Regions from separate parts of the Homo sapiens genome. Here all the other regions are linked to region 2. Evidence: fine-mapped expression QTL. A gene starts in region 2. Each other region holds a variant in brackets. All regions are shown on one strand. Distances are from middle to middle.

The links. PIP is the estimated chance that this variant, and not a neighbour inherited with it, causes the effect.
Region 1: its variant is the best candidate, but not a certain one, in a credible set for the expression of CCDC157 in monocytes after LPS (Quach 2016, PIP 0.55).
Region 3: its variant is the best candidate, but not a certain one, in a credible set for the expression of CCDC157 in whole blood (INTERVAL, PIP 0.50).

What each region holds. Positions count from the first base shown.
Region 1 is chr22:30,429,239-30,432,082 of GRCh38, reverse strand. No RefSeq gene overlaps it. Among named protein-coding and RNA genes, the nearest start is that of MTFP1, 4.9 kb to the right of the region's middle. The variant C/T (reference allele first, on the strand shown) is at 1,270.
Region 2 is chr22:30,355,722-30,358,221 of GRCh38, reverse strand. CCDC157 (coiled-coil domain containing 157) reads right to left here and starts at 1,215. Exons shown (of 12, transcript NM_001017437.5): 1 at 1,090-1,215. SF3A1 (splicing factor 3a subunit 1) reads left to right here and starts at 1,328. Exons shown (of 16, transcript NM_005877.6): 1 at 1,328-1,492. The coding sequence starts at 1,430. RefSeq lists an enhancer at 1-446 and a silencer at 1,382-1,631.
Region 3 is chr22:30,329,451-30,332,250 of GRCh38, reverse strand. SF3A1 (splicing factor 3a subunit 1) reads left to right here. Exons shown (of 16, transcript NM_005877.6): 16 at 1-263. Among named protein-coding and RNA genes, the nearest start is that of TBC1D10A, 3.9 kb to the right of the region's middle. The variant G/C (reference allele first, on the strand shown) is at 1,414.

The DNA.
Region 1 (2,844 bases), 74 kb before region 2:
TAGGCCTCATTCGAGGTCCCTGTCTTGCTTAAATGCCTATTCTGGCAGGGCTCGGTGGCTCACACCTGTAATCCCAGCACTTTGGAAGGCCGAGGTGGGAGGATCGCTTGAGCCCAGGAGCTGGAGACCAGCCTAGGCAACATAGCGAGATCTAGTCTCTGCAAAAAAAAAAAAAAAAAAAAAAAAATCAAAAAATTATCCAGGCACACGCCTGTGGTCCCAGCTACTTGGGAGGCTGAGATGTGAGAATCACTTGAGCCTGAGAGGTAAAGACTACAGTAAGCCATAATTGCACCGCTGCACTCCAGCCTGGGCAACAGAGCGAGACCCTGTCTCAAGGAAAAAAAAAGCCAATTCTGCTTTGAAGAATGATGTGCTGAGTTGCATCTGGTGGTAGACAGTGGGGTCTTCCCTTCTGTGAGCCTCAGTGTCTTCATGTGGAATATGGGAATGATGGTTTTATCTCCTCACGGGGCTGTTGAGGATGCAAGAAACAAATGCACGTAAAGGGCACGTACAAACACACAGATGCTAAATGGCAAATCTGCATCAAATCCTTAGCTACTGAATTCTGCAGAGATACAGGGCTCTGCATCTTTGAGAGAAAAACTCACACTCGGAGAGGCTGTGACTTGCAAATCAGTATGATCTGATTCTACCCTTCTTTCCAGCCCAGACACCCCAGCTCTTCTCCCCCGAATCTCCCGGGTACTCCCTGGCTCTTGGCAGCCTTGTCCTCGTGAGCCTCCAACAGCCCCCTCACCAGTTGGATGAAGCCATAAGCTTTGAATGGGGCAGTGAAGACCTCATAGCCAGGTATGGCAGGGACTGGGGAGGGCAGGCAGGTGCCAAGGCACAGGTGGCAAGCATCCACCTGGGGCTCCTTCCTCACTGCCAGGAGGACATCTGTCTGATTACAGTCCTGCAGGAGGCTGTCTCCTGGCAATCCAGCCCAGGCTAGCTCAGGCGGAGAACCAGACTCAGCGAGAACATGGCCAGCAGAGGGTGCCCAAAAACCTCCCCCAGCATCCCCCACCTTCAATTAATTCCCTGCATCTCCAGAATGGAGCAGGGAGCTGGGCACAGTGACTCACGCTTGCAATCCCCGCATTTTGGGAGGCTAAGGTGGGCAGATCAGTTGAGGTCAGGAATTTAAGACCAGCCTGGCCAACATGGTGAAACCCCGTCTCTACTAAAAATACAAAAATTAGCTGGACATGGTGGCATGCACCTCTAGTCCCAGCTACTTGGGACACTGAGGCAGGAGAA[C/T]TGCTTGAACCCGGGAGGCAGAGGTTGCAGTAAGACAAGTTTGTGCCACTGCACTCCAGCCTGGGTGACAGAGCGAGACTCAGTCTCAAAATGATAATAATAATAATAAATGGAGCAGGGTAAAATGTTGGGGGGTTGTGGAGATGGTGGTGTTTCCCCCTACAGACAGGATGTCCACCGACCTCATCCCTATCAGCCTGGCCTGGGAGTGCCTCAAAGCCCCTTCTGTGAGCACCTACTATGTGCCAGGCATCTGCAAACTTGCACCCCGGTATTTCCTCACAAGTTACCACCAACGGGGCAGTCAAGGGCAGAGGTGGCCCACAGTAAGGCATAGTAAGGGGCAACAACAGAAGGGGCACTGGAGCTGGTTCTGAAGGGTGCTCATAGCTGGCCAAGAGGAAAAGGATTTGCAGCTGAGGAACAGTGTGTTGTGAGGAAAGGCATAGAGGCACAGGAGGGCAGGTGATGGGGAGAAGGACAAGGCTGGGCGCTTAGGCCCATGAGCACAAAGCCTATATGTGGCCTGCACAGATCCCAGCTTGAGGGAGAGCCTGCAGAGTGGAAAGTGGAGAGTGAGTGAGCAAGGAATTGGTGGTAGATGCCAGGAGATGTCACAGGGATGCAGGTGTGAATGTACCCCGCATGGGGCTGTGACTGCCGGGGGAGAAGATGAGCTGGGAAAATGCTGGGCTGGAGAAGGATGTGAGTGCCAGCTCAGACAGGGAATGGGGGGTGGGGTCGGGGGCTAGAGAACAAGGCGGGGCTTAAAGCCTTTAAGGGAGCTGGGAGGGAGTGACAGGTGACTGGGCAGAGGCCATAGGGGCTTGGGAAGGGGACCTTGCCAGTGTGGGACAATAAGAGTAGCAGAGAAAGGCTCAGCCCACATCAGACTCATCCTGTAGCCATGGATACCCCCAGAGCAGCAGGGGCCACCACCCCGGAGCCCCCATCCTGTCTTGCTGGCAGCACCCCTACCCAGCCCTGCAGCCCCTTTAAGTCCCAGCCCAGGTGCAGGTGAGTCCCACCAGGACAGGGTCAGCCTACCTGACTGCACCTGGGCTGCAAGGGATGGGGCCAGGGTCTTGGTGGGAGCTGATTTGGTGCTTGGGGCAGGGCTGAGAGGGGCCCAGGTCTGCTTCAGCCCTGTGCTCCCACCTCTCTACCTCTCTGAGCTGTTGAGGGGGATGGCCCAGGATCAGAGGAATGGCCCCCTCTAGCACTCTCGAGCCCAGCAGCTCAGGGGAAGCCACAAGGAAAACAGGCCATTCCCTGATTCTGAGTGTAAGAAGCCCCCTGGTCACTTCCTTCTCCAGGCTGCCGAGTCCCCTCATGAGGAGGTCTCATGTGACCCTCATATGGGGCTGACACCACCATCTTGGCCACCTTCAGGCTCAGGTGGTATCTGCCCAACAGGCTCCCCTCCCAGAGGGGTTGGTGCTTTAGGAGGCTAGAAAAAGAGGGCAATGCCAGGCTGAGTGCAGTGGCTCATTCCTATAATCCCAGCAGTTTGGGATGCTGAGGTGGGAGGATTGCTTGAGCCCAGGCATTCAAGGCCAGCCTGGGCAACATAGG
Region 2 (2,500 bases):
TGTGTGGGGGGAGGGGGAAGACTTGAGAGAGCAACCTTTCCTATCACTCCCTCATTTCACAGGTGAGGAAACTGAAGTCCAGGAACAGGTTCGGAGCCAGCTCCCCGCTTTCCAGAGTTGAGGAGAGGAGGAAGGAGAGAGGGGGGAATCGCAGGAGAGGGAGAGAAGCCGGCGGGATTCGAGGTAGGCCTCTGGGGAGCGAGCCGCATAGCTTGCAGGGCTGCATCTGTGAGAGTGAGGGGTGAAGCCTAAAGCAGCAGCCCTGCGTGATGGCTCATGCGTGTAATCCCAGCACTTTGGGAGGCCAAGGCGGGAGGATCGCTTGACCCCAGGAGTTTGAGACCAGCCTGGGCAACATAGGGAGACGTCCTCCCATGTCCCTACAAAAAAAAAAATTTAAAAACTGGCCGGGCGCGGTGGCTCACGCCTGTAACCCTAACACTTTGGGAAGCCGAGGCGGGCGGATCATTTGAGGTCAGGAGTTCCAGACCAGCCTGGCCAGCATGGTGAAACCCCGTCTCTACTAAAAATGCCAAAAAAAAAAAAAAAAAAATTAGCCGGGTGTGGTGGGCGCCTGTAGTCCCAGCCACTCGGGAGGCTGAGGCAGGAGAATCGCTTGAACTCGGGAGGCGGAGGTTGCAGAGAGTCAAGATCGCGCCACTGCACTCCAGCCTGGGTGACAGAGCAAGACCTTGTCTCAGAAAAAAAGAAAAAAGAAAGACAAAGAAAGCAGCAGCCTTGATTTGAGAGGGAGGCCCCCAGTGGGGCTTGAGGGCGGGACTACGGAAGGCAGGGGATGGAAGCAAGAAAAGGCAGGTTCCGTGGGAAAAGCGAATTAAGGGCGTAGGATTTGGAAGCGGGGCTTGGAGGATGTGGGTCTGAAATGAAAGGGGGGACTAAGGGAGTAGGGAAGTGGGGCTCTTAGGCGGTGAGCCTGAGGGGACAGGGGCTCTCCTAAATGAGAGACCAATGGGAGGGAGCTGGGCTCTTGGAAGGCGGGGTCGAAGGGAGCGAGGTACTGGCCTGTGGAGTAAAGGAGCCGCGAGGTGAGTGCGGCGGGGGTCCGGCGGGTGACGTACAACATCTCACCTGTCTTCGGCGTCGCGGCTTCAGCCTTCGTGTCTGGTCGGCTCCCGGAACTGCCCCCGGTGCGCCTGCGGCCACCGGGATCCCCGAAAAGCCCTAGCCGGGCGCTCAGGCCGCTGCCTTGGCAACGGCGTCGGACGCCGCGGTGCCCGCGGGGAGGGGCGGGAAGCGCGTCACGGCGAGGGGACGGTCCCGGAAGTGCGCCAGTCGTACCTTCGCGGCCGCAACTCGCTCGGCCGCCGCCATCTTGCGAGCTCGTCGTACTGACCGAGCGGGGAGGCTGTCTTGAGGCGGCACCGCTCACCGACACCGAGGCGGACTGGCAGCCCTGAGCGTCGCAGTCATGCCGGCCGGACCCGTGCAGGCGGTGCCCCCGCCGCCGCCCGTGCCCACGGAGCCCAAACAGGTACCTCTCCCCCGCCCCTCAGCCTGCAGCCGGAGGGTTGGCCTGGGCGCTCCTTACTCGCACAGGAATAAGCGGCCGGCCGCTATGAAGGGCTTGGAGGGACTGCAAGTCCCAAGAGGCTGCGCGCTTCCCGCGCTATGGTGGTGTTCTGGTAGCGAAATGAGCCACCCTGAACGGGATTCTCTAAGTGGTCCGCGGAGCAGCCCCGTCGGCACGAGCCGGGAGCTTCTTAGAAATGTGGAGTCTCCGCCGTAGATCTTTTAAATAGGAATCTACATTTGAACAAAATCCTAAGGTGATTGATTTATAAGTGCGAGAGGCGCTGATCCAGCCCATCCTCTGATCTTATGTAGCAGTTGGGGCCGCCGGCCACAGCCTTTCCCCAGTAATGGCTAATTTCCCAGCCTGCACGGTACATCTTTGGATGTTAATTCTCAGCATCTATTTCGGTGTCTGCCCCAAGCCAGACACCGTGCCAGGCTCCCACATTACCGGAATGAATGGGGCATGGTCCCTGCCTAGGGAGCTCACAGGCTAACGAGAAGACAGACATATGAGAATGCTCACCAAATGTTTGTTGTCCCAATGGCCATCGATGATACAGTGCCAGCCCGCCCTTAATAAAGCTCTCCAATCTCGAATGTGCACAAACCATTGTAGTATGGTGTGATATGCCCTGTGATAGAAGTTTCAGGTACAAATCTAATGAACATTGTTTGCTGGGCTAGAAGGGATATTAAGGTAGGGAAGCCCACAAGAGTGAGAGGTAAATTTCTTTTAGAAGAAGGAATAGGAGTTTGCCAGGTAGGTGACTAGGGAAGGGAAATAGCATCCTTTATTCATCCAGCAAATATTTATTGAACACATACGCTGATCATTGCTTTGGGTTCAGAATAAGGGGGGCGGGGGGGGGGAACATGACTGAAGAAGCCATGCCTTTTCCACAAATATTTAAGTGCCCGTGTGTCCCTGGCATTTTCCCAGGCATTGGGGGAAAATAAGGTAATA
Region 3 (2,800 bases), 26 kb after region 2:
CTTAGAGGAGGCCAGTAATGATCAGAACCATTTTACTTTAAAATTAATAATATTGTATTAGAGAATATATTAAATGGTTATATTGGGTTATGTTAGGATATATACTTGAATGGAAATACATGTACTATTAGCAATCATATTTCATTTATCCCTGTAATTAGACAAGAAAGCATAATATAGCTCTACTCATGGGTACACATACCAGTGTATAAGATTTTTAGAAGTTTACTTTTTAAAAATAAAAGCAAAATGTAAGATCTTAAGAGTTATGATCATTAACTCTACCAGATATGGAGATTTGCTGTTAACTATTCTGTATTGTTACATTTTTTTAATTCTGCATTGTTGCCAGGTGTAGTGGCTCACACCTGTAATCCCAGCACTTTGGGAGGCCGAGGCGGGCGGATCACCTGAGGTCGCGAGTTCAAGACCAGCCTGACCAACATGGAGAAACCCTGTCTCTACTAAAAATACAAAATTAGCCGGGCATGGTGGCACATGCCTGTAATCCCAGCTACTTGGGAGGCTGAGGCAGGAGGATCGCTTGAACCCAGGAGGTGGAGGTTGTGGTGAGCTGAGATAGCACCATTGCACTCCAGCCTGGGCAACAAGATTGAAACTCTGTCTAAAAAAAAAAAAAAAGGCTGCATTGTTATATAAAAGAACACTGCCTGGTGAGTTCCCTGACACCATGCCCTGACACTGCTCCCAGCATGTAAGTGAACAATTCTAGGTACCCCTGGACACTACAGTCCATGAAGCAGGACAAGATAAACTCCTGCCAGGCACAGTGACACACCTGTAGTTCCAGCTGCTTGGGAGGTTGAGGTAAGAGGATTGCTTGAGCCAGGAAGTTCAAAGTCAGCTTAGACAACATAGTGAGAACTCATCTCTAAAAAAGTTTTTTTAAATTAAAATTAAAATAGATCATTACAGAGAATACTGTTATAACAGGTGGCAGGTGCCTGTAATCCCAGCTACTTGGGAGGCTGAGGCAGGAGAATCTCTTGAACCCGGGAGGTGGAGGTTGCAGTGAGCCAGGATCACACCACTGCACTCCAGCCTGGGCAACAGAGCAAGACTCCGTCTCAAAAAAAAAAAAAAAAAAAAAAAGGGCATCTGGACTTTTGCTCATGGCCAGTGCTCACAGGTTTCCTGAGCACATGCCAACTGCACATTCCAGGATCCAGGAGAGGGGCCTATGTGAGATCCTCAAGCCCAGCTGTTGGGAATGACCCCAGCAGGATGAGACTCTGGGATATCAACACATTCTATCTTCAAAAGAATGTCTCCAACAGCCAGTTCACCAGGATGTTCCACAGCATTGCCTAAGGCCTCTTAAATTCTTTATTCCAGTGAACCACGTGATTCTGCAGGGCTCCTTTCTGATCATTTATTCATTGGTTCACTGTT[G/C]CCCTTGCTTTCTCACTCCAATCTAACAACACAGCCTCCTTCTCCTTCAAGGGGAAAATCATCTGCTGCCATGCTTGTACACTATTCTCAGTCCTGCAGAAGGGGTCCCTCATTTTCAGCCCATACCACCTCCCCAACACCTACTCCAGCATTCTCCATACCTTACCTGGCTTTATTTTCTTATTCTCACTACCTGATAGATGTTCTGTGCTTGTTCATGTTGTCCCTCCTCCACTGGACTATAAACTCTATTGGGCCAGGACTTCATCTCTCTTATTCACTAGAGCAAGCTCGTCCAACCCATGGCCCAGGAGAGCTTTGAATGTGGCCCAACACAAATTTGTAAACTTTCTCTTTTTTTTTTTTAGACAGAGTCTTGCTCTTTCGCCCAGGCTGGAGTGCAGTGGCGCCATCTCGGCTCACTGCAAGCTCCACCTCCCGGGTTCACGCCATTCTCCTGCCTCAGCCTCCCGAGTAGCTGGGACTACAGGCTCCTGCCACCACGCCCGGCTAATTTTTTGTATTTTTAGTAGAGACGGGGTTTCACCGTGTTAGCCAGGATGGTCTCGATCTCCTGACCTCATGATCCGCCCTCCTCGGCCTCCCAAAGTGCTGGGATTATAGGCATGAGCCGCGCCCGGCCCCAAATTTGTAAACTTCCTTAAAACATTATGAGATTTTTTTTTGCAATGTTTTTTAACTCATCAGCTATATCGTTAGTGTATTTTATGTATGGCCTAAGACAATTCTTCTTCCGGTGTGGCCCAGGGAAGCCGAAAGGTTGGACACCCCTGCACTAATGTCTGGCTCATTATAGGTGTATTAAATAAAGAACTCTGGAGTTTGGCCAGGCATGGAGGCTCACGCCTGTAATCCCAACAATTTGGGAGGCCAAGGCGGGAAGATCACTTGAGCCCAGGAGTTCAAGACCATCCTAGGCCACATAGTAAGACCTAATCTCTACAAAAAAATACAAAAGTTAGCAATTTCACACAAGGACACCCAGTTGTTGAGGGGCACAGCCACGAAGTGAAGTCTCCCAAGCCACGTGCCATAGGTTAAATTGGGCAAACTCCCCCGCTGCAGCCACAGGCTGTGATGGGGAACACTCAAGACAATAATGAATTTGCAATTCCTTTTGCAAGCTTCAAATGCCACCACTCCTGGCCATTATTTATTTATTTATTTATTTATTTATTTTGAGATGGAGTCTTGTCTGTCACCCAGGCTGGAGTGGTGTGATCTCTGCTCACTGCAACCTCTGCCTCCCAGGTTCCAGCGATTCTCCTGCCTCAGCCTCCTGAGTAGCTGTGATTACAGGCGCCTGCCACCACGCCCAGCTAATTTTTGAATTTTTAATAGAGACGGGGTTTCACCACGTTGGCCA